Homo sapiens: one gene and its partners. The protein of the gene in region 2 interacts with the protein of the main gene of each other region in a pairwise test. Each region holds a gene or a part of one and is shown on either strand. Other genes may lie near its edges. The genes, in order: PLSCR1, CTSZ, BACH2 and KRTAP3-3.

Evidence for each region.
Region 1: the proteins of CTSZ (region 2) and PLSCR1 interact in binary tests that used the Homo sapiens proteins (3 or more experiments, as listed by UniProt).
Region 3: the proteins of CTSZ (region 2) and BACH2 interact in binary tests that used the Homo sapiens proteins (3 or more experiments, as listed by UniProt).
Region 4: the proteins of CTSZ (region 2) and KRTAP3-3 interact in binary tests that used the Homo sapiens proteins (3 or more experiments, as listed by UniProt).

What each region holds. Positions count from the first base shown.
Region 1 is NC_000003.12:146,514,650-146,520,610, forward strand, and holds the end of PLSCR1 (phospholipid scramblase 1), read right to left. Parts: intron 2,519-5,961; coding exon 2,357-2,518; intron 1,453-2,356; coding exon 1,396-1,452; 3' UTR 531-1,395; downstream 1-530. UniProt on the Homo sapiens protein: Catalyzes calcium-induced ATP-independent rapid bidirectional and non-specific movement of phospholipids (lipid scrambling or lipid flip-flop) between the inner and outer leaflet of the plasma membrane resulting in collapse of the phospholipid asymmetry which leads to phosphatidylserine externalization on the cell surface.
Region 2 is NC_000020.11:58,997,255-59,004,287, forward strand, and holds part of CTSZ (cathepsin Z preproprotein), read right to left. Parts: intron 4,391-7,033; coding exon 4,211-4,390; intron 500-4,210; coding exon 349-499; intron 1-348. UniProt on the Homo sapiens protein: Exhibits carboxy-monopeptidase as well as carboxy-dipeptidase activity. Capable of producing kinin potentiating peptides.
Region 3 is NC_000006.12:90,293,842-90,301,222, reverse strand, and holds the start of BACH2 (transcription regulator protein BACH2), read left to right. Parts: upstream 1-4,379; 5' UTR 4,380-4,743; intron 4,744-6,016; exon of another isoform or gene 6,017-7,381. UniProt on the Homo sapiens protein: Transcriptional regulator that acts as a repressor or activator. Binds to Maf recognition elements (MARE). Plays an important role in coordinating transcription activation and repression by MAFK.
Region 4 is NC_000017.11:40,992,899-40,998,474, forward strand, and holds KRTAP3-3 (keratin-associated protein 3-3), read right to left. Parts: upstream 1,267-5,576; 5' UTR 1,200-1,266; coding exon 903-1,199; 3' UTR 532-902; downstream 1-531. UniProt on the Homo sapiens protein: In the hair cortex, hair keratin intermediate filaments are embedded in an interfilamentous matrix, consisting of hair keratin-associated proteins (KRTAP), which are essential for the formation of a rigid and resistant hair shaft through their extensive disulfide bond cross-linking with abundant cysteine residues of hair keratins.

The DNA of each region.
Region 1 (5,961 bases), on a different chromosome or scaffold from region 2:
CTCATTTACCATCCTTCAGTTTGTTTTTGTGACCACATTTTTCCTGGACACCGGACAAGAGCCTGGGAGCCATGAGTGCCGATATAAAAGGCTCTCACATTCGCCATTTGCCCTTGCTGGTGGAGGGCAGCTGTCCCACATGACAAGGCAAAGGGCCCACTGAGCTGTTAACACTTAAGCCGTCCACAGACAGCAGAGCTAAAAGAGCACTGTTAACACATCTTCTGGGGCTTCAGGAATCGCAGGCAACCCCACCTGGATGCTACCACAGGGCCTGCACAGTTTGTTCCTGCCCATGCCAAAGCGGCCAGCCAGTTCCAGTGCTTGTACACTCCAGTTCCTGCCTTGTTTGCCTGTGCACTCCCTCCCAGGAGGAGTTGAGAATGGCAGGCTGAGTAAACAAGGCACCCCTGTCTCGAGTCCTGTGAAGGGGTCAGGGAAATATCCTGCTTCAAATGTACCATCATTTAACTGAATGAGTGCTCAAAATACCATCTGAACACATTTCGTTTAAAAACAAAAATCAAATATACAAAAAAATCAAGTTTTTATTTCAAATATTTGAATCTAATAGATCATTATTTAGGTTTATACTCTGTGAATATATATATGATATTGTATTTAATTAATATCTGAGTAATCTCAATTACCATTTTCTAGGAAGGATAGAGTGTAAGAGCTAAACATTTCATGTAGAAATATTAACTTTCAAAAGTTATAATACCAGAGTTTTAGAGTGAAGGAGTATTTAAAATGTGTCTTTCTTTGGGAGAGAATCATTTTGTTCTTTACTAACAATAATTTGAAAATTGGTAATTTAATATCTTGTGAATATGAAAATATTATGGTATAGATTAGCTTCTAGGAGAAGTTAAGTGTAGCATGATTTCTTGAAGATTAAAAAAACATTTAACTTTTTAAAGATAATATGCATATTGAATATTATTTGAACATAATAGTAAAGAAAATTATCTTTGAGCTTTTTTGAATATATGGCATTTGCAAAATAACATTAGCTCTTATGCATGAAATAAATTGTAACTAGATTTAATAGGACAAGATATAATTTATATAAAAATTAATAAGGCCTTAGTTAATATTTGGTAGTAAAATGGACAATGAATCAGAGATCATAATTCAAAGCAGTTTTTCAAAGGAAGTTTCATTAATAAATGCAAAAACTCATATGTCCTTTTTCTCAAATTGACAATGAGTATTAAAAAATGTACAAAAACCTTTATAAATCAGTTATACAGAAGATAAACTATAATTTGAAAAGCAAAAGTATACAACCAGAGCTACAGGCCTTACAGCTTAATTCATACAGGTATGAGTTTAGATAGTCTCAATCAATATACAGACTTCAGATTTCCTGAGGAGACTTTCACTAATCCACTACCACACTCCTGATTTTTGTTCCTGGCTGCCAGTGCTTTCAAAAAACATGAAGTCCTAGATAAAAACAAAAGTATACAAATGAATTTTCAACAACAAAACAGAGATCAATTATCAGATGCAGAAATACTAAGGGATCTAGTGAAACACAGTAACAAATCTGTTAAAAAAATTAAATGTAATAAGTAAATATACAAAAGCTCTATAATTATATAAGTTCTGCCTTTGGCTTTCCATTTTAATAATAAATTCTATAATTCTATTCATTTATTGATACCTGTATGAATTTAATTAATCTTCCAGTCATTTTCTCTAAATGTTACTTTTTCTCTATCCCCATAATTCTCATCTTTGGCTGCATACTGGAATCACCTGGAACACTATATGAACTTCGAAGTTTCTGATTTAGTTGAACTGAGGTATGGACTAGTCCTTGGAGTTTTTAAAGTCCCTAGGTGGTTCTAATGTGAAGGCAATTTCAGAATCACTGGTATATCCAATTATTTCCTGTAATTTGGTAGTTAGGTCTACACACTTGAGTGAATGTACACTCTTATTGTACTTCATACTCCTATATTAGATGGTTTAATTTAATTACTATGAGTCATGGTAAAGTTTCCTTGTTTCACTAAATTTTTTCCACATATGCCTACTTTCAACTTCTTCCTCAAAGCATCTAGGAGATGCCTGATTTAAGGGGAGACTAAAATCTCTCCTTAGTACATCTCCTTAGTCCCCCTCTTGCCATGTGAATATTCATAGACTCTTCAGGTAGAAACTAGTCACCTGTGACCCCAGAGTGTCAGGATCAAATAGAATTTCAGAGCTAGGATTAAATGGGAATCCTGATTTAAAATCTATAAATTTTAAAATGTCATTTTGAAATATACACTTTACTGAATCATTTCAGAATGAACCTAGAGAAAGCATCTATAATCAAGATTAATAAGAACAGACTTACAATGAGGAAACAGGCACCAATCATTACAGCTTTCATTTTAACATCAAGGTCTAAAGGGAACTGGATTCCAAAGTTATCAGCGTCTGTAAATGCCTCTCTCAAAATTCCAGTCCAGTGCTTGGAAATTTTGCCAACCACACACTGTTCATCAAGAGATTTAATCTAAATTGAAAAAAAAAAGTATTAAATACTTTTAGGAAACTTATAGCAAAAGTACTTTCAAATTTGAAGTAAGATGAAACAAATATGGTATTAAAATTATGCACCATATGTAACCCTCATTAGATAACTGGAGGCTCCTGTATCTATTTATAGATATATGAAAAAAACTGTTTCATTGTACGGAGAAATTATATTTCAGAAAGTTTTCCTGAAATATTTAACAATTTCTATTTTATATTAATATAGACATTAATAAATTATTTGAATTGACCCAAAAGAAAATTTAAGCAAAAAAGGATATAAATATGAAATGTTTCTTTGATGACATTTCTAGAAGCCATCAGGAAGTTAATGAACAAAACTCCTATTAGACTTCTGCTTTAGGAGAAGCACAGTTTACACAGACTGAAAGATTAAATATGATGAAAAGGCTTATTACTACCCACTGTGAGTTGCCAAACATGAAATGCTAAGCACCTAGAAAAGATTAGCAGTTTGGAGTAAAGGCAAATACCAATAAGTAACTTGATGAAATGCCCCACGCCAAGGGTTGAGGTTGAGAGTGGATAACTAGTGGGGTGTGAATAAAAGATGAAGAGTGTATGAACAAATGAGCTCCGAAGTAGAAGTTTCCTAATTTTACAATTCTGCCTGAGGAAAGCCCAGGGCCATCATATAGGGTTGAATGGACTTTGCTCAGACTAAGGCAACTCCTCTAGGAGGGCAGGTGGGGACTGAATGTAGCTGAAATTCACAAAACTATGTACACATATAGTTGTATTAACAGAGGAGTGTCCTTTTCAGCTAAATAAATGTGGGGAATCTAAAAATACTTGACTCATTTTATTTGAGTACAAGTGGATAGTTTGTAAAATACTAGAAATAAACATCTAATATGAAGCTGATAGCATAATACTGTTCATCAAATATTCATTTCATTCCCTCTCCTTCTGTAGGGCCAGTATACTTCCTGTTCCTTCATAATTAGGCTTGGCCATGTTACTTGTTTGAACAACGGGTGTTAGCAGATATGACATGAGTAGTGTCCTTAAACTTGGCTAAGTGCTTTGGCCTGGCTTATGATCTTCAGTGACAAGCCACTAGAAAAGCATGACTCAGGTAGCTGCTGCTGCTACAGCCATAGAACAAATCTACCTGGAGCAGATTGAGGTTAACATGCGCCTAAGTCAGTGCTTAAATACATCCACTGAAACACAGTTGACCTACACACCCATAAGCATGAGTATAAACACTTATTGCAAGCTGCTGAGTTTTAGGGATTATGTGTAATGAAATACTACTGTGGTGAAATAAACTAATACAAATCCTTTCTTGTACATGTTAGTATTTTTCTGCTAATAGCTGTCATTGAAGCATTTGAAGCTAGTAATGAAAACTCTTATGTTTTATTTTTTAATTCTGAAATTTAAAAAAATGAAAAATGCAGCTGACAACTTACTAGCCACCGTAAACTCAACACTATACAGATAAAGATATTAACATTTGCCCTTTTTGATTACTACAGCAAGAAATTTAACAAAGTAGAGAATACATTTTTTATGGCAAGGATAAGAAATGCAAATAATGATCTTCAACCAATAAATTAGCAGGACTAGATAATTTTTAGCTAAATTGTAGACATTTTGGAATAGAAAATCACTATAATAAAATGTCAACATTTGGAAATAATAAATTGGTATTGTATAATGTTAAACTTTCAAATCCATGAGTGCAATACTAATTGGTAAAAGCATTCTAAAAAGAAAACCATAGATTCATCTCACAATGCAAATATAAATGCAAAATACTGAAATATAATGACAGCATATAGGATCTAGGTATGTAGCAAAGAAATATAAAAAGTGTATCATGAGTATATTAATAGTTGCTGGTAAGCTATTTTATTTACTTACTAATGATTTATTTATTTACTGTTATTACACCCAATTTTCATGTAAAAAAACTAAAGCAAAGAGAAGTGAAAGAATTTGTTAAAGTCACATAGATAAGTGTTGTGAAGATGGGTTTCAAACCTGGGCATCTGGCTCCAGTGTCTATACTCTTGACCATTAGGATTGTCTGCTTTTTAAAAACATATTTATTGAATACTAATGAAAATCTAGTTGAGAGGGCAGGAAAAAAAATCTGTGGGCTATAGTTGACCATATAAAATTTATCACTACTCAGGATCAGTTTCTATATTTTGAGATTCCTGAAACACAACAGTGGCAGGAATTCAGATTTCAAGCTCATAGACAGAGCTGACTTGGTATGTCAGTTTCATGTGGCCATATTTTTTCCCCCTACCAAGAGTCCTTGAAGGAGACAGACTCTCTTATCACCTATATTGGATAAAAGGTCTACTAGGCTCTCTCTTACTCACCATTAAGATAACCTTCTTAGAGATTCAATTACTGTCTGTTTGCTGAAAACTCTCCATTCTTTTCCTATACATAACTAAAATCCAACATGACCTTAATTCAAGTCATTAACTTCCCATATATATTTTATATAATCAACTACAGCTCATTGATTATATTTTGCTGATCCCTGACCTAGATGTGTATTAGTATTTGATACCTTACTTTTTAAAAAGCAGACTATCATAATGGTCAAGAGGACACAAATCAAGTGTTTTTCCTCCAAGATTCTTAACTTGGCCAATGTAATATCAGAATAATAACACATCAAGTTTATCTCCAAAATTTTTTTCATCCTCAATTGATATCAAATCCATGAATTAGTTCCACATAGTACACCTATGAAATGCCTCTTGAGTTATTCTCTGTTTTAGAATGACTCCTGCCCCTGCTGTGGAACAGGCTTTTATCTCTTTTATTACTTCAAGTTTCCATGCCCAGTGACACCCTGGTGGATTTCATGTTCCTTAGTGGTCCCTCATACTGATAATTTCTGCTTTGAGGTGTCAAAGTTTCCATTGTCAACTCTATGGAAAATTCTTCAAGTGACTATTTCTCAATTCTTTCCATGAGAGTACCTTGATATCATCATTCTAGATAAATAGAAGAAAAGTTAATTTATTACATGGAATGGATGCTTTAAGGTATCCATCAAGAAAGACTGCCAGATGAAACATAAATTTTTTAGTATCAAATACAAGGATTACACAATGTTTTTCCAGTGTTTTCATTTATTTACTAAAAATAAAATATATGCCAGCCAAACTTCTGTTAATATTGTTCCTTGAATGAGAAATTACTTTTCACTTCTCTGGATGTAGGACAGAGATTCCATCCCTTACATGAAGAACTGCTATTATGCATACCCTTACATAAAATTTTTATACATGCATATTATGCACACATATACATACACACATTATATAATCCCCTTATAAGAGCCTTTTTAAAGTTTCTATATCACATCCTCCTTAGAACTGCAAATCTCTGTCATTAGATTATGAAGTCAATGGGGGAAAGGAT
Region 2 (7,033 bases):
TGTTATTCACATAGTGTCTTCCCTGCTGAAACTGCCCCCTCGGTACAGCTTGGAGCGTCTCATCCGCATTCCGCACAACCATCCATAGGGGCAGACTTGCTATCAGCTGAGTGTTAACTCTGAGAAAACTGAAGTTCTTAGAGGGGAAATGATGTGGCTGTCTCGAGCCTACTGAGTACAACCGGCCAGAAGGAAAGTGGCGAAGGACGGAGATGCCTACATGAGCACCGACATGAGCCCACACTGGCGCTGTCACCGCGGATCTCTCCTCACCCGCGGGACCTTTCCTCACCCGCGGGACCTTTCCTCACCCGCAAACCTCTCTTTGCCCGCGGGACCTCTCCTCACCTGATGGGACCATTTGCATAGATTTCTGCCATCATCTTCTCCCTCCCAGAGAGGGAGCCGTAGTCTCCCACCCTCCAGAGGGTGTAGTTCCGGATGGCGTGGCACTCTTTGAATTCATTGCATGTCCCACATTGGTTAAACTTGTCACACTCTGGGGGAGAGCAAGAAAAGTCAGCATGAGGCCGTCTCCTCATCAACCCACTGACAAAGAAGCCCGCCAAGCCCACTCTCCACTCTCATCATGCAGCCTACCACTCAGCAGCTAAGAACGGAAATCATCTTGCTATTAGGTGCTGCTTAATGACGCTCTTCTTTCAGCTGCCAGGGAGTTATGAAAAGCCCTTCCCCAGGCCTTGGCAGAGAAGAAAAGAGACAGACATTAATTAGCACATAGTAGGCACCCAGGAGTTCGCCTTTTTCCTCTAATGGCTGGAGAAGGACCTTTCCACAATACTTTCTAGCTGAAAATGGAGCATAATCAAATGATTAGCACTTAATAAAATGTCTCTATTGCTGGCTGGTGAATAAATAGGCCAATACTTTGGGTAACAACAACCACAAAAAAGCATTTTCTTCTGTGCCCACGCTGAGGGGACCAAAAAAAAAAATTCTGGTTATTTCGACTTAAGAGGTTATCAAGAATTAGGCTTAAAAAATAAAATAAAGAGGGCCAGGCGCCTGTAATCCCAGCTCTTTGGGAGGCCGAGGTGGGTGGATCACCTGAGGTCAGGAGTTTGAGACCAGCCTGGCCAACATGGTGAAACCCCTGTCTCTACTAATAAAGTACAAAAATTAGCTGGGTGTGGTGGTGGATGCCTGTAATCCCAGCTACTCAGTGGAGGCTGAGGCAGGAGAATCGCTTGAACCCGGGAGGCAGAGGTTGCAGTGAGCCAGGATCGCGCCATTGCACTCCAGCCTGAGCGACAAGAGCGAGACTCCGTCTCAAAAAAAAAGAAAGAAAGAAAGAAAGAAAGGACAGGCGTGGTGGCTCACACCTGTAATCCCAGCACTTCGGGAGGCCGAGGCAGGAAGATGGCTTGATACCAGGAGTCTGAGACCAGCCTGGACAACAGAGCGAGACCTCATCTCTACAGAAAAAAAATTTTATAAATTAATTTAAAAAAAAGAAAAAGTACAGCTCTCGGTTTTGCAAGGCTCAGAGTCACTGTGTTCCCACTTTTCACTCCATCCACACGGCGGCCCTCGGCCTGCCATTCGCTGCTTTGGCGCGACCTGTCTGTCATAGTTACACATCTGTCGGGATTCCTCCCCCAGGAACATGAGCACCTTGAGGCTCAGACACTGGTTCAATTTGTTCCTTGCACACCAAGTGCCCAGTGCCCAGTACTACGGGAAAATGGTGGATGTGTGGCCACACTTTTGCTAACACTACAAAGATGACTATTTATCGCAATCAGGTTTTTTTATTCTTTTCTTTTCTTTTTTTTTTGGAGACAGAGTCTCACTCTGTCACCCAGGCTGGAGTTCAGTGGTATGATCCTGGCTCACTGCAACTTCTGCCTCCTGGGTTCAAGTGATTCTCCTGCCTTAGCCTCCTGAGTAGCTGGGATTACAGGCGCATGCCACCGCGCTCGGCTATTTTTTGTATTTTTAGTAGGGACAGGGTTTTACCATGTTGGCCAGTCTGGTCTCGAACTCCTGGTCTCAAGTGATCCGCCCGCCTCAGCCTCCCAAAGTGCTGGGATTACAGGTGTGAGCCACCGCGGTCACCAGTCACACAATCAGGTTTCTGATGAGCTCCATCTGCTCCTGTCAGGCTGGGTGGGTTGGAGGGGCCTGGCCTCAGCTGGGCGAGAGCACTTTGGCGTGGAGTGGGCGTGGCCCTGGAGACCACCTGATACCTGCTTCCTGCTTCCAGAGCCATCTGATAGCCCTTCCCTCTGCACCTTCCATCTGTCCCCCTTCTCGAAGGACTCACTCAGCCAGTCCAGGAGAATTTCTGGCTGAACAATAAGGCCTGAGAGGCAAGGCAAGGGAGCCCCGTTGGCAGAGGGTGGTGCCCAGAGGACCTTCTGCCACTTCAGAGTGCACAGGGCGCTGGGGCCAGCCTATATAGCCTGGGGCAGGGGTGGAGGCAGCAAAGCAAGCAGCTGCTGGGCTTTCCCAGCTCTCTGCTCTGGCTGTGAGGGAGATCTGAGTCAGGTGGCTTAAAACTACCAGTTATGGCCGGGCACGGTGGCTCACACCTGTAATCCCAGCACTTTGGGAGGCCGAGGCAGGCATATCACGAGGTCAGGAGATCAAGACCATCCTGGTTAACACAGTGAAATCCCGCCTCTACTAAAAATACAAAAAATTAGCCGGGCGCGGTGGCGGGCGCCTGTAGTCCCAGCTACTCCGGAGGCTGAGGCAGGAGAGTGGCGTGAACCCGGGAGGCGGAGCTTGCAGTGAGCCGAGATCGCGCCACTGCAGTCCTGCCTGGGCGAAAGAGCGAGACTCCGTCTCAAAAAAAAAAAACAAACTACCAGTTATGGCCGGGCGCAGCAGCTCATGCCTGTAATCCCACCATTTTGGGAGGCCAAGGCAGGTGGATCACTTGAGGTTGGGAGTTTAAGACCAGCCTGAACAACATGGAGAAACCCCGTCTCTACTAAAAAATACAAAAGTAGCTGGGCGTGGTGGCGCATGCCTGTAATCCCAGCTACTCAGGAGGCTGAGGCAGGAGAATCACTCAAACCCGGGAGGCGGAGGTTGCAGTGAGCAGAGATCGTGCCATTGCACTCCAGCCTGGGCAACAAGAGCAAAACTCCCTCTCAAAAACAAACAAACAAACAAACAAAACCTACCAATTATGGGATTAGGGTCTGGACTTTTCTTTCCTTCTGTTTCTAATGGGAGCAGCCTGAAAGGAATGTGCCAGCTCTAGGGATTCCAGGCTAGCTTGGGTCTGCTCATCCACACAGCACCCCCTTGGCCGTAGCCGCACCTGAATGTGGGGGACCTGGGCCCTGGGTCACCAGAACAGGAACCAAGCCAATGGCTCCTTCCAGTTTGGGGCAGCACCTCCCCACCTGCTCTCCACCAAAGCTCCTGGAAAATGAACTCTCCCTCCACAAGGCCCCCTACACCTCTCCCCTACAAAGGCCCAAAAAGCCACCAAAATGCCAGCATGTCAGAACTCAAACACCACATTCAGGCCCAGCCAAAGGGGCACAGGAGCAAGACACTCTTCCACGAGGCTGGAGACATGGGGACAGGGCCGGTATTTTTTTTTTTTTTTTTTTGAGCCGTAGTCTTGCTCTGTCACCCAGGCTAGAGTGCAGTGGCGCGATCTTGGCTCACTGCAACCTCTGCCTCCCGGGTCAAGCAATGCTCCTGCCTCAGCTGCCCGAGTACCTGGGATTACAGGTGTGCACCACCACACCCAGCTAATTTTTGTGCTTTTGGTAGGGACGGGATTTCACCGTGTTGGCCAGGCTGGTCTTGAACTCCTGACCTCCAGTGATCTGCCTGTCTCGGCCTCCCAAAGTGCTGAGATTACAGGCATGAGCCACCGCGCGCATGGCCAAGGATGCTCTTCAGACCGCTCCTGCAGCAGGCTTTTTCGTTGGGCTTCTCAACAGGGACTACGGGGTCCAGTTTTCTGATCCCCAGCCCAAGCGGGTGCAAGATAGCAGAGGGGGCTTCTGCAGCGAGAGGCTGGAGCTGGCACTGGGAACACTACCCCTCATGGTCAAGAGCACCAGCGCCCCTGGGGGCTGCAACCTCTGCCCTCCCGCAGCTCCCCAGCCACCAGCCAATGTGAGGAGCACGGGGTCAGGCTGGGTCCTCAGCCACGAAGGCCTGTGGAAGAGGGAGTGGAGGGCAGGAGGGTGGAGTGGGGGCACGGGCAGCAGCCTACCCTGGTCCTTGGCCTGGTAGTTGTTGCAGGTCTCGTCAGGGATGCCGTGCTGGTGGGCGTAGTCCCACACGGACAGGTCATTACCCCCTTCACAGGAGCCAGCGTTACCGCAGTCGATGACGTTCTGCACGGACAGGAGGGTGGAGGGCCACGCTCCCTTCCTCTTGATGTTGATCCGATCTGCAACAGTCAGCACCTGCCAGTCAGCACTCACCCACTCTCCACCCACTTCCCCGAACGGACCTGGACGCCTCAGGCGGGATGCAGGCGCTGCCCAGCCTGGCCTGCCTTCAGCTCTGCCCAGCTGCCTGTGTCTCCTTCTCCCTGCTGACCTCTTCATGGAGGTCTCCGCTCAGACGTCGCTCTGCAGAGAGGCCTCTCCTGGCCTTCTTTGGGCACTGTCCTGTCTGCCACACCTCCCGCTACAAATGCCATGAGAGCAGGGCCAGGGCCAGGCGGTCACCAGCATCTGGCCCTGCAGACACCTGAGAAGTGCCTGCTGAATGAAGGGCTGAATGGACAGAGACTCAGCCACCCATGGCAAGTGGGCCACACCCCAAAGCCAGCCAGGAGAGACCGTCCCTGCCCTCGTGGACAGGGGGCCAAGGTGTCAGCTCTGTGAACGAGTATAGCCCAGGGAGCCGCATGAGCCCCAGTGAGGGGCCAGATGCGGTCCTGAGGGCTGGGGAAGGCCAGCAGGGACCCAGCCCCGAAGGCACTGGGGGATGCAGAGGGCTCCCAGCGGCTGGCTGACCATGCCCTCACTGCCCAGGTGGCTGGGCTCTAAATCCCAAGGTGCAGCCAGGGACAGCTCAGGGTGGTCACCGAGGGACCTGCTTCCCTTCCCATGCACAAATGCAATAAAACAGATCCTAGAAGGAAATCCGGGCCCATGTTCAGGGTCATCTCACTCTGCCCTCCCAGGACAATGATTTCACAGCCACACACCCCTGCACCTGCCTCAGGCCTCATCTCCTGACCCCACGTTCAAGTCGGAACTCTTCCTGCAGCCTCACCTGTCCCTCCCCCAGGGCACAATGAGCAGGGAGTCCCTCTGCCCATTGGCAGCCCCCTCTGGACCTGCACATCCCCTCCATCTCTTGTCACCTTCCAGACTCTCCCACACTGCCCCACAGTCCGCTCCTCCACCTGGCCTCCTCCCGGTCGCCCAGCCAGGGGCCTTCTGGAACTGTCCCTGCTCTGGTGACTTCACGCATCACTGAAAAGTCCCAAAGCAGACCTCCATCCTGCCGCCACCCAGCCTGCCCATGCTCTGCACCCCAAACCCTCTTCCTGGAGCAGCCGGTGGCTGGTTTGTCCCCTCCCACCTGACCGACCCACCCTAGGTTCCATCCTGTTTCCTCCCAAGGACTTGGCTCCCTCCAGCTTTCCTTCTCCCCGCTCCCTTGTCAGCTATGCCCCCTCTAAGCAGATCTGCACACCCCAAACTTGCCTTTCTCACAACAACAGAGGAAGCCCCCGGCCCCTCCCACTCACTATCACGGTTTTCTGCTTCACTCAATGGTTTGAGACAGTGCCCCGACCCCTACTGCCCCGCTCCTCTTCAGCCCTTTCTCTCTTGCTAAAGGTCACTTCTCCACTGTCATCCGAGCTGACCACTCTCCGGCAGCAGTCAGCACAGCGGTCGCTCCATCCTTCTGGAAGCACCTCCTGCCTGGGCTTCTGGAGTTCCACTTGGCAGTGCAGGGCGTCCCATGGCCTGCCCCCGAGCCCTATCCTTCTATGCCCAACCCAACCCGGCGACAGCAGTCCTGGCCCAGAGGCAGAGCTCGGATGGATGAGCAGTTTCGGTTCTGGCCTCTCCGTCTACTCCTGCCTGAAGCATCTGGACCCGGCCTAACCAGCTCACTGAGGTATGCACAAGCTTCTCCCACGGCCAAACTCAATCCTTCATCCCACCAGCCCCATCTGGGAACGGGCTTATTACTCACACTGTGGGCTAACACAAGTGTCCTGAATACGTTTAATGCAGACAAAGCCAGGCCAGGGTGTGCAGGAGGCTGGGTGTGTCAAACACATTTTCCACTCATGGTGTTTTCAACTTACGAGGGGGTTGTCGGGACATGACCCCACAGTTAAGTCAAGGAGCATCTGTAACTGTGCAAAGTCTACAGCACCATGAAGAAAAATAAATCCGGGAGATAATTCAGGAAGTGGGGTGTCATATGCATAGGGTGGCTGAGGAAGACCCCGCTGAGGTGACATCCATAGGAGGGAGGGAGGGAGCCATGGGACCTCAGGGAGAGAGGAGGTGCCTGGTGGGAGAAGCTACCTCCCTGCTCCACTCTCCGCAGGAGCAGGGGAGCAAGGGCGGACTGGGAGGGAGCCCGATGGTGAAGGCTCTTGAAGGCCAGAGGGTTCTGTCTTTTATCTGAGTGGAATCCTGAGAGGGTTTCAAGCCAAAGAACATGTTCTGATGGGTTGTCACAGGCTCACTGTGGCCTCAGGGGCAGAGGCCAGGAGACCAGTGAGGGCAGTCGGCAGTGGGGCGGTGTGGCTTAGACCTGGAGGAGGCGGTGGGCGGTGCGTGATTTCTGCATCTGCTTCGAAGGTAGAACCGACAAGACTTGTGGGTGGATTATATGAGGGACAGAAAACAGAGGAGTCGGGTACCAGTCCAGGCTTTTGCCTGCATAGCCGGAAGGACAGCCAGGGAGGACTGGGGAAGAAATGGGCTGTCAGGTGACAGTAGTGGAAGGAGCCATCCAGACCTGAAGGTCTGAGGCTGGAGGTGTCAGGTGACCGGGACAGCGGGCGAGTGGGCAGGTGGATGTCAAGCTGAGTTCAGGTGAAGGGTTGGTC
Region 3 (7,381 bases), on a different chromosome or scaffold from region 2:
TTTCTTTTTGCTATCATACAAAAAAGATCTGTACATTCTTAATTTTTTCATTAGTATAAATTATAACACATACAATTTCTATATAATTTTAAATATTAATATATAAAAGTAATAAAATCAAATACAAAATTACATTTTTCAATTGTTTCATGTATATTAGTTTTGACTCCTTATGTAGATTTAAGTTCCTTAAGGATACAGTCCAATGTTTCTTAATTTTTCACCTCAACATGTAACAGATGCTCAGTAGTGTATGTTGAAAAATTAGTTTATTTCATATACCATATTTTACTAGTTTATTTCATATAAGCTTTTAGATAATAGTGGCATCAATTCTTTACTATAGAAGAAGATCACTATAGATAGTAATATAAGAACATCACTTTCTTTTAGGGACTATTTCCAAAGTCCTTCTTAGGAACTGAGGCAATCTTTGAGGAGATGAAGATGGGACAGATAAGAGATATACAGTTTGAAGGAAAAAGGCTGCCAGCCAAATTTAACAATAGCTAGAAGCAAAATTTTTGCTTTTCTGGTTTGGATTGCCCTGATCATTTTTCAAAACTTGTGTGAGATTTTGTACAATGAGAAATCTCTTCTTGGCAGTGGTGTGTCCAGAAAGCCCCCAGGAGTGGGCCCCCAAGGTCCTCTGTGCCGTCCAGCAATTCTGCCACATCCCTGGCACTGGTTCACATCTTTTCTCTATCCCCTAAATCTATCCTTCCCTCCTCCACTATCAGTGAACGGTCTATCTTCTTACTCCACTAAGAAAACAGAATTCCTCAGACAACGGCTTCCCATACTTCCTACCATGATATTCCAGCCTCCCTGCACTTCCCCACCTGTGCTGCCCTTCCTTCTGTTGGTTGGGATGAACTGGCCCCTTTCTCTCTCAAGGAAGCTTCTCAGCTTCCTTGTGGGGATCTTTTTTTCTTCATCTTGCTGACCTCTAAATGTCGGAGTGCCCCAGGTCTTAAACCTTAGACTTCTTCTCTTTGCTCCTCTTCTCCACCCATGTTTCCAGTTGCTGTGTTGATGACACACAGATTTCTATCTCTAGTCTGGACTTCTCCCCTAAATTCTAGATTCCCATGTCTGATTACCTGCTCACCTTTTCCACTTAGATGTCTGATAGACATCTGAAATGTACTATATCCAAAACCAAATGTTTCAGCATTTCCCCCATACCTGCTCCGCCTGGATAAATGAACTCTCCATTAATAAGCTGTTCAGTCCAAAATTCAGAATTTCCTTTGACTCTTCTCTCATATCCTACAATGGAATCATCAACAAATCTTGTCCGGTTTATGCTGAAAATATATCTGGATTCCATTTATGGCTGTCATTCTAGCATTCTATTAATAGTTTAAATCACCATCACCTCTCTAATGACTTATCTCAATAGCCTCCTACTTGGTCTCTCTGCTTCCATTCCTGTACTTCCCGTGACCCAGCAGAGTGATCCTTTAGGAGTTGAGGCCAGGACATGTTCCTTGTCTGCAGAAACCCCTACAGCATCCCACTCCATTCACTTTTGTCAGATTTCATTGGATGTTAAATTTGCCCTGCCATGCCTTATTCAAGGTACCACATTTGAAATTCTGTCTACTGTTCTGCCTAAGAAAAAATACAATATTTTCTCAACATCATCAAATCCTGTACAGGGTGCTGGAGAGCAAGAAAATCAAAGGCTCAAGAACTGCCCATGTCTTTAGTCCGTCTTCCTTTCCTCATCTGTTTCCTGTATATTTTAATTTTTCCTGTTTTATTTTCTACAATCAAGAAGATTTCTATTATAGAAATAAAGTTTATTTGTTTCAATGCCATGATACAGATTTATTGTCCCTGGAAATATCATGCTTAGAAATGAATCACAGACAAAGCCCATGCTCTGGATCAACACACATGTGTAATTATGTAGGAAAAAAATGTATATCAGGAAAGGTTGAATGCTCCAGGCATGAGAAATAAATTGACCTCCACTCAACTTACTGCCATGATTATACAGAGGGAAGGACCTGGATCTGTTTCACATCATAAACGCCTAAATTGCCAGAGCAGCACAAGCCCAGGAGTGGCCATGCAAACTCATGATGGAGGTGCTAAGGCTGTCCACAGCCCAACCTCTGCAGCAGTACTGTTAAATGAGTGTCTAGTACTTGACTTACCATTTTAATTTCACATAATTCTGAATGTATTTTTCGGCTTGAATTCAAATAACCCACTTCTAACTACCGAAAATAAAGTAGAAAAATGAACTCACTACCAGACTTCAAAGCTTATCCAAAGCAAAGATTTCGTCTTACAGCCAGAGGTGCATGATTGCAGAGCTGGATGTAACCTGAGAGGCTAACTACTCCTAATTCAGCCTCCTTGAATGACTGGATGATGCAACCTATCACAGGTGTTTTAGGTTTTTTCATCTCTATTTAATGTCCCACCTCATGCTTGAAAATCTCAAAGTGAAAAAGCTCCAGTCTGAGTCTTTGGGCAAGCAGACTAACTGAAATGACCTGTTAGCCTTTGTTGTATCCATCTGACAAGATCAGCTTGTAGAATCCAGAATGGAGGTGGGAGATCAGCTGGCAGCCTCATTTCCCTCCTCAACCACCCCTACGCTGATGTGCCCAACTCCACTCACAGCTGGGCAGCCACCGCTTGCTTGAAAATAAATGAATCTACACCACTCTCATACGGATGCTCTCAAGCATCCCTTGTTGTGAGAAAAACATTTATTGCTGCTACTAAAATGCGTAAAGTTATCTCACAAACACATACTTACAAGAATGAGGAATGAGAAACAGAACCATCCATAAAACTATAAGAAACGGCCTGGCCAGGGCAGACCAGGAATTAGTACTCTGTCCTTGCCAGGGGTCAGGCAGGGACCTCAGAAGCAGGGTGTTTTGTCCTAGGGGGCACCAGACCAGAGGTCAGGAGACTGAGGGCTACTCCTAGCTCTAGGACTTTTCCTTATCTGAAGGCCGGGTCGGTTAGCAGAGAAAATCTCACAGTCCCGTGCCAGACCTCCACGCAGGGACTCTGCAGTGCTGTTAGAAAAATTAGCTCAGCACCTTCAGCTTGCTTTCAGCCATCACTTAGCTTTCCACACAGACATTCCAAATGGGGCCTTTCAAAACTCTGCCCTCAAATGAAGGTAGTTCAGAGCAACACTTTAGATGATATCACAAGACTCCCAGGACGCTTCACTGCTTCCTCAGCATACGCCAGTGCCCGTTTTACAGGGGGGATTTATGATCCTTCTCTCAGTAGAGCGAGCCAAACTTTTATAATATTCATTAAAAATCAGCACCACGTGTAATAATATGGAATACTGCCTGTACACAAGAGGGCCAAGTTATAGGTGTTTAGGGAAACGTGGCAGAATTTTCTGGCCTTGGCAAGAGGTAAAGTTGCAGGCACCAGCACAACACTAACACAACCTTATTTTATTGCAAATGTACATTCAGCCTAAATCCTAATTACCTTCTGTAAAATCCTAACCACCACCAAGCTTTCTTCTGACAGGGCACTCACACGACGGCCTTTAAGGGCAGCAACAACATCCTAAGAGCCGCAGAAAGGAAAGGCAGGGGAGAGTGGCTGGAAGGCAGTAGGAGCTGGGGCTGAAGCCCGGGAGGTTGGCTTTTAATGTCCTCCTGAAATTGACCACTCTCTTTCCAAAAACACTGGCTTGGGGGCTTAAAGGTTCGCTCAGTAGGGCAGGCGGAGGGCCTCCTGAAAAGGATTGAGAAGTCAACATTCAAAAGGCTGCTTTTACTCGCCCGGTCCCCACCCAAAAGGGAGTCCGGTCAGCTTTGTGGGGGCCAGTGGAGCATCTTTTCTTGCCCTTCCGGGAAAACGCTAGCTAACCCTGGGATCCCCGGTCCCGACGTCTGCTCTCCTTCCCCAGGTGCAGCACCTAGGGCTCTGGCCCCCTCCCCACGTGCCACACCAGCCCTCACCACTACTCTCACCCTGCTATGCCCCCAACCCTCGTCTTTCGTGGCCGGGAAGGCCAGGCCGAGCGGGGCGGTCAGCCGGGCCGGGAGGAGGGGGCTCTCCGGGCCGCGCGGCCGCACAAAGCGGGGAGATCTGCTGCTGCGGCGGCATGAGGCGCGCCCCCTCCCGCGAGCCAGCGGAGCGCGCGCGCCCGCCCCCGTCCCCCGCCCCCCGCCCCAGCCCCCGGAGCGCCATTCGCGGAGCGGCTTACGCTAGTCGCCGGGCGTACCGCGCCCCAGCGGCCGGGGAGGTGCGCTGCCCGGCTCCCGTAAAGTTATTGTGAATGGGGAGCGGGTGACGTCAGCGCCGAATGTCAACAATGTAGCGATTGAGAGTGTGGGCGTTCCGGGGAGAGCGCAAGCCGCGCGGCGCGGAGCAAACAGCGCCGAGCCGCCGCCGCCTCAGCAGCAGCAGCAGCAGCAGCAGCGGCAGCAGCGGCCGTGCACGCCCGGGCTGCGGTCGCACAGCGCTAACGTGAGCGGCCGCCGCCCTCGCCACCCCGCCTGCCCACTCCCGCCGCCGCCCCGCTCTCGCTTTCCCCCCGGCCTCCCCTCGCCCCTTCCCCTCCCCCTTCCCGGCGCACTCGGGGGGCTGGGAACGAGCTGCCATGTGATGCGCGTCCCCTCCGCGAGCTTTCGGTGACCCACGAACTGCCCACCTCGCCGGCTGCCGGGAGGGGGCTGCGAGCCGGGAAGACGCGGGGAAGAGGAGGCGGAAAAGGACGCAAAGTTCTCCGGCGAGGTGAGTCCCGGGCCCCGGGCCCCGGGCCCCGCCGCTGGGCGGGGTGGCGGGGCAAGTTTGCGGGGGGAGCGGGCGCGCGGGGCGGGCGGGGAGGCGTGGGGAAACGGCGCGGGAAGGGAGCCCCGGCCGCCGGGCGCGCAGCCGCCCTCCCCGCGCCCTGCCCGCTTTTATGGCATTTTCTAGGAACGGGAAGGGGGTGGGAGCCGAGCCGGCGGCCGCGCCGCGCCGAATGTGTGCTCTCCCTCCCGGCTGTTTACGGCGGCCGAGGCGCATTGTATTTTGCTGGCGTCGAAGGGTGTTTTGGAACAGCAGAGGGAGGAGGAGCAGAGAGTAATAAGTCAGGCATGGGGAGGGCGGGCTGCAGGAGGCGCGCGTCCGCGCGAGCCGCAGCAGCTGTCAGACCCGCGGCCCTGCCCCCGGCCCGGCGAGGCCCGGGTGTCCCGGCCCCCAGCCTGCGATCCCAGCTCCAGGCCGGGCGGCCTCCTCCTTAACCCTCGGCGTGCGCATCCCGGGCTGCTCCGCGAGGACCTTGGCCGCGGCGCCTTTGCGCTCAGCTGTCAGCCGCCGCCGGGTGGCCCGGACCACCGCGACCGGCGGGGAATCAAAGCCCAAGTTTAGGGTCGCAGGAAGAGGCGAGCTGGGGGCCTCGCGGCGCAGACCTGGATCGAATCTCTCCTAGCGAAAGATCGGGTTGTCGGAAAGCGTCCCGCGTAGCTAAGACCTAAGGGCGCCAGGCTTCTGAGAGGGAAACCTTGCACCTCCTCTCCCACAGATCCTCCATGAAGTCAAGGTGCAACACACACACACACACACACACACACACACCCTACACTCCAGTCTCCAAGCCCCAGAAGCTTCACCCAGGAGACTGGTTTATGAAGGGGACACTGCCCTCCCCGTCCCCGCGTCGAGGCGCTCCGTGGCCCCGCTGTGCTTCGCTCACCCGGCGGGTGTTCGGGAGCCCGGCGCCGCTGGAGACGGCGGCGGGCGGCGCTCACGGGCTACCCTAGGTGCCCACGAGGGGAGAGACTGGAGCGAGCATCTCGGCGACCTCGGTCTGGCCAAGCATTTGCAGGAACTCGGACCGTGAGGGGAAGCGTGCAGGGCCGGGAGTGAGTGTGTGAAGGGGTGGCACACTCCTGGCTTCTGGGGTCGCGGGCGCATGGGGCATCCCCAGCACTCTCCCGCGCGTAGGCGAGTTTGGTAACTTGAGGGAAGTTCCGGCGCGGCCGCTGCCGGGGTGGTTTGTCTGTGGCCCGATGAGGCGCGCCTCGCAGCCTGCTCTCCCGGTCACCGCCGTCGCCGTGACCTGTGGCCTCCAGGAAACGAGAGGGACCGGGGCGCCCCACCCGCGAGACGGACCCGCAGTCTCCCGGCGGGCCCGCGGGCGGCGAGACGCGGCGTTCCTGGTTTTCACCTTCGCTGTCTAGTGCTGCAGTCTCTCACTCTCTGTAAATTTCATCTGTTGAGTGTATTTAACTAAAAAGGGTAATTACTTTAGATAAAAATCCTTTCCTGCCTAGTGGGAACCTTGGCGGAGATGATGCCTAATGAGATATTTTGCTTTTGTCTGTTTAGAGTAAAATTAGAGATGTTAACGCTGATAACGGTTTTCTCAGATCATTAAAATGTAACATGTAGGAAAGGCACGTCTTGCTGCAAAGGCTCGGGCTGACATGAAAGAAGCTGAGCGTGAAAGGCTGCCCCTCCTTTGGCGGAGAGGGCTATTTTGGTAAGGCAGCGGGCGTCTTGCTTAAAATGTGAGATCGCCCCACCCTGGTTCTCGGGCACCTCCCGAGTAAACGGCGTTTTTCATTCTTGCAGGTAATAATAAACGTGAGTCAAAATGACATCTTGTTAGAATTAGTCTTTAGTCTGTAAGAGAGATTGCCAAATTACAGTGTTGCGTTCAAACTGCTCCACTGAAAGGTCTGTCAGCATTTCCATTATAAATTCAGTTTTTCTGGAGTTTATAATTTCACCACAAAACTTTGAGTGGCTGAAATGTTTTCCCTTCTAGTATTCTGGTTTTTGAAAGAAATTTATTGATTGCCCATTTCCAACGTTTTTTTTACTCTCGAAACCTGAATATCATTGAAATAGAGCGAAGTCCCAGAAATGGAACACACAACCATGGAATAAAGTATTTTTGTTAGAACATAACTTTATTGGTGCAGAGCCGTATTTTCGTTTTGCATTGCAGGAGGCTTCAGGTTTGCCATTTGGTAATCATGAATGTGTTGAGTAAATTCTTCTGCTGTCTGTCTATTCTGCAGGTGGACTGAAATGTCAGTTGGTAGTGTGTTTGCCAGGATTACATGGAGACACACACTTCTCAGTTAAGTGTGTGTCTGAACTCATAGCTAAATTGTGAACACTCCTGTTAGTTACTTTTTTGGTTCTTTGTATGTTGCATGTCAGGATCTGCTATGAAGAAGAAGGGGTGAGGTGAAAGAGAGGGAGGGGATCAGGATTCACTTTCTGTATTACCAGTGCCTGGGAGAAAGCCATTTATTATTTTCCTATTGAATTATGCCCTTTGACTTAGTATCTTCAGGCAATTCTTTTCCAGTAGCTCACCTCTGGCTGCTGTGTAAGGGGCTTAATTATTTGCAAACTGCCTTGAAATCCCTGGATG
Region 4 (5,576 bases), on a different chromosome or scaffold from region 2:
TTTTTTTATTATAACACAGCAACTGGCATTCGATAATTATTAACCGTAGGAAGAAACAAATGGATGTTGTGTTTGTATTTGCTTCACCTGCCAGATGGTTAGCTTATTTTCAGCAGAGACAATAAAACACAGGACACACAATAGACATTTAATAAATCTTAGTTGAATAAATAATGACATTATTATATTTTTTTCATAAATAGATCATGTCACCTGGATTAGTTTATATATTTTGTCATATTTGGTGTTTGGGTAATGTTCAGTATTTCTCAACCTGTCTGAAACCATTTTTTGGGAGGACAAGTCAGGAAAAGTCTACTTTCAAATATGCCGATGTACTAGACCATCTTACATGCAAGGATGTTTAATTTTCTTAAAACAGCAAGAACAGCAAAATTAAGAAATTTTTGTCCATACTGCCACCATTTTCAGTTTCACTAATGTTTCCAGTTTTTCTTTAAATGCCAATGTTCAGAGTTAAGAAACGCATTTAATGAATGAACAGAAATAAACAGAAGTAATTGTAGACACTTGTGCTATGCCAGAGATGTAAAATTTATTAGGATAATCATGAAGAACTTCCTTAATTTTCAGAAAGATACCACCCAAGACTGAAAACAGAATTCCCAAACCACCCACAGAAAGAGACACTTTAATATGAAGGAATCGAACAGCTTCAGGAAGCTATAGGCATCCACTGATTCAAACTGCAGTTGGTTATAGCTGAATGGTCATTGAAAGTTTCTTGGTCTCTTTTTTTTTGCAGGGGGTGATTGTGGTAGTACCATCCTTGTTCCAATTTCTAAAGCAGAGTACATTAGTTGTAGGTACTGAGATAGGTGAATGCTAAAGCTTCTATGTTGACTTTTTCAATCTCAGGCACTGAGCAAAGTAGCCATCCATTAGCAGCCTCTTGGGAGGCAGGGCTCACAGCAGGGCTGAGTGAAGGTGGTGAGGTTGAGGGTCTCCAGGCCTGGAGTTGGCTGGCAGGAGTTGAGCAGGAAGCAGGTGGGCACGCAGGGCTGAGGAATGTGGCAGGGTGGGGGACAGTTGTCACAGCAGGTGGGCTCCAGTAACCAAACTGTGTGTGGGCAGGTGCTGGGCAGGCAGACTCCACAGCGGCAGGATTTGTCAGAGGAGCAGATGGTGGTGGCAGGCCCGGTGGGGACACTGCAGCCTCGAGAGGCACAGCAATCCATGGCTATTAGAGTCTGTGGTATTTATGGGTTTGATTGAAAAGAAGGATAAGGCTTCTGAGGTGTGAATATCTCTCCTTTCTCTGGGGCTCTTATGTACCCTCTCCACTGGGAGTTGGTCCAGCCAAGAGGCTTCTTTCCTGGTTCTTGTTTATGTTAGTGTACCCATTATTCTTTAATTTGTTTGACATTTAGACTCTGTAAAGAGTCCCCATTTTCCTAATTAACTTTTATTTGAGTTCGTTGCTAAATCTGAACTGATTACCCTTGCTATTTGTCACTGGAACACAAGCTTTATGAGGTATCACCAAAGCCTTCTGTTATTATATTTTCAACACCAGCCCTGCTGGGGAATATTGCATGACAGTGAGTCTGTAATATGTGGGCCTGCTCTCCAGTGCTGCTTTATTTTTAATCTGTCACTTTATCTATACCAATTTGTCTGATAAAGTATTCTTGTTTTAAAGAGTTGAACTTAATTTTACTTTCTTTTAGCTTTGAGGCTTTTGAAGATCAAAATTACATTAACATGAAGAAATATGCCATTAAGAAATATGGAAAAACTTTAAAAAACGCTTATTATTCTAGTTTTTTACTACAAAATATTTTGTATACATTGTTTATCATTACATTACATTACTGGAATCATATTGTGCATAGGTTCTGAAACTTGCCTTTGTGTGTGTGCATATATATTATATATATATATAATTATCTTATATTTTAAAGGATATTTGATAGTGTTACTTTTAATATTTCTTAGCATTTATTATATAATTGCACTTCTATGTTACTTTAAAATTTTATATTATTATGCATTGAGGTTATTTTCCACTTTTCTCTACAATAATTTTGGCAACAGAGCACCTCTGTATGTAAATCTTTGTGCATATTTTTGATTATTTCAGAAACAGAATTAATTATTTGGTAGAATTATAGGGGCAAATGTTAATTTCCAGTATTTTTAAGGCCTTTCATATCATTGCCATACTGTTTTTCAGAATGGTTCTATTTACCTACTTTTTTTTTCAAATTATCTATTTCCACCAGATGTGTTTGATTAAGAATTCCCATTTCGTATACCTTTGACAGATACTTTATTTTAAAGGTGTTTTCCAATTTCATTGGTGAAAAACACAATTTTATGATTGTTGTGTCTGTATTTCTTTTATAACCAGCTAGGTTGAAATATTCCTTCATATGCATATTGGCCATCTGTCTTCTATTGAGAGTTGGCTTGCTTTGTTTCCTTCACTGCTAATTGTGGGCAAATTGAATTTTTAGCTTCTGTCTATATAGACTAAATAAAATAATAACTTAAGAATACAAAACTAAAATTCAAGTAAAATTATTACCAAAGGAAACTTATGAGCCTGAGCTAGATTAATCTGTTGACATTTGATTTCATTCTCTCTCTCTCTTTTTTTTCTTTTTTTTTTTGCAAGGTATTGCATTTTTTCCTGAAATCAAATGTAGCTGTGGTAGGAAAGACCTGGTTCTAGTACCAGTACGCTATTTAGACTGCAGGCATAGTTCAGTGTTTAAGAGGGAGCACAAGGTGGGCTTGTGGCCAATATCATTTATACACCTCGAACCATTTCCGCTCAGCTTGGTCTCATGCTTCTTGCAAGCCATGGTTCTTCTCACATTCTTCATACCTCCTCTTTTAGGCACACCTGTTGAGTGGTGCATTGTGGTGTGCATGTTTGTATGTTTTGGGAATGGGGACGTGTAGTCAAGAGGACCACCTGAGGAGTCAGAATAGCTCTTGACTGTTCCCGGTGCTGCTGGTTATCTTCCTCGTTATGGTAAGTAATTCACTTTTAGGAGCTTCATCCTTTTTCTCTGCGAAATCAGGGTAATAGCATGCATATTCCTCCACTTAGAAGATTATTGTGAGGTTCACATGTGATAAAAAGGGTGAAAGCTCATGGACAACCATATAATGCTATGCAAAAATAAATTATTATCATGATTGAAACAAATTACAGATGAAATTCAAGGCAAGGTAAAGATAAAAGAAACATAGTCAAAAGAAGAAAAGAAAATGAGATGAAGGTAAGTAAGAGAGCAACCTTACAGGAAAGAGCAAACATTTATATTAGTTTATACAAATAAATAAATAAATAAATAATCACATCTACGATTAGAGAAAGTGGTTGGCATATAAATTAACAAACCTAAAAATTTGAAAAGCTCCCTATGGCTCTGATTGAAAGGGAGAATTCATGATATCTTCTGGTTCCTGGACTTTCCCCAGATTTATCTTTGTATGAATGCCTGCCGAAGTGTGCACCCTTTTACTTAGAACTGATTAGTATTTCACTTATTATTTAAAAAGTAATTCAACAGACATTTACTGAGCAGTTACTATGTGCTAGTCACTGTGATAAATGTTGGATTTATAGCAATAAACAAGATAGGCACCATCCTTGCCCTCATGAAGTTTACAGTTTGGTGGAAGAATTTTTCATACACATAACATATTATTATAAGCTGCTGCTATTATACATTATAATAGGAAAGAAAAAGAGTAAAAGACAAAAAATAAAAGAAAAAATTATTTTGAGGGAAACATTACAAAGGAAACATGGCTTGCAGACCCTCAGGATTAGAATTTCATGGCAGAAAGCTATCAGCTTCTTACCTGGGATACAATATTACTTTGAGTTCACCATAAAAGCTTAGAGCAACTATTACTGTTTATGCAGCACATTGTGTTTCTCTAATCATAAATAAGACAAGGTTACAGATTACAAACAGTTGTAATGCAACAAGTTTATTATAATAAGCTCTTCTCTTTTATTGACAAGACTTGCAGCACTTTATTAAAATGTATTTTCTCTGCAGTGGTCTAAGAGACCTGAGAATTACTCTCCTTTGTTTATAAATGATGACAGTGATTCATAGAGAGGTGAGATGATTTGCCTTAGATGGTTCGGGAGCCAGTGTGTTAAAAACTAAATATAGGACCTATTGGGATTGAGCTACCTTTTATGTGGTTAGAAATGGAAGTTTAAACTATGTGTCAGAGATACTAAGCATTTTATTTTTAAAAACAACGCGTATCTTTTTTCTTTAAGTGAATGTAGGAAAAACATGGTGATTCTTGATGAGATGGTAGATTTTCGGGGTGCTAAAAATCTAGACACACACACACATACGCACACGCACACTCACACATCCAAGAAGTCCAGTTTTAATTATATCTTTCTATAGTCAATGGAGGGATCTGGGACAGTGCAGATGTAAATCAAAGATTAATAATGAAAAGAGACAGAAGCAAAACATGATTATATTGGTCTCTTGCTTGAAATATTTCATTGCTTCAAAGTTTCAGTCCAAACCCCTTTGCTTTGAGGAGCCCCTTATGTCTGGGTCTTTGCATTTCTGTCTTCTCTGCCTCACCCTCTTCAATGCATTGTTCATCCAGTCATTCCCAACTACCTCCTGTGGCTTAAAGACACCAACCTTTCCGCTGCCTCCATGATTTATTAAGCTGCTATTCTGTCTGGAACAACTGTTCCCTACCTCTCCTGCTGCCTATTCATCTTTTAAAGCTTAGACTGGATAGCTCAGAGGCTTTCCGTAGCTATTTCTCACCTTTGACACTGAATCACCAAATCAGGGTTTTAGTTATTCTTTCTGTATGCTTGCATGCCATGCTGCTCACCTCCCAGTCACAGCAGAATCCCTCAGCATTGCAATTATTATTATGATAACTTGTCTTTCTTCTTCACTAGATTTGGGAGAGACTTGAGGGCACTTGAGACTTGAGGTAATAGCATTTCTTTTATCTTTTTACTCCTGGCATCAATATGATGCCTGACATAGGGCAAACACTCAGGAAATATGGACAAATGAATGAGTGAATGGACTAGATCTCTTGTTGACAATATCCTCTGTAGTGTCCCATAGACTCCATGGCTGCTAAGTTCTGTTCATTTAAGGTTGAGCTGTAAAAAGCCTATGGAATCCCGTGAGAAATTTCTCTCTCAAGACACTAACAGGTACATTGAGGACATTTTAAAACAAGTTTGTTAAAAAGCATTTGCTTCTCCCCTTCCTTGTCCTACTCTGTTTCTTGCATGTCTTCTTGTGGTTTTATTTCAATGCATTTTCAGATTTTGACTTGTGTCTTTATATATGTATTGTGTATAGATATACATACACACATATATTTATATGTGTTACATAAATGTATTGGATGTATTATATATATAATATATACTTGTTCTCTCTAGGCTTGGAAAAGAAAAATCTTCATGAGATAAAATTAAGTAGGTTGATAAAATTAAGTAACGAATTAAAGCATACGTAATCAGAGTTTTAGCTCTCAACCTGAGACACCTGAAAAGTATTGGCATTCTATTGATTACT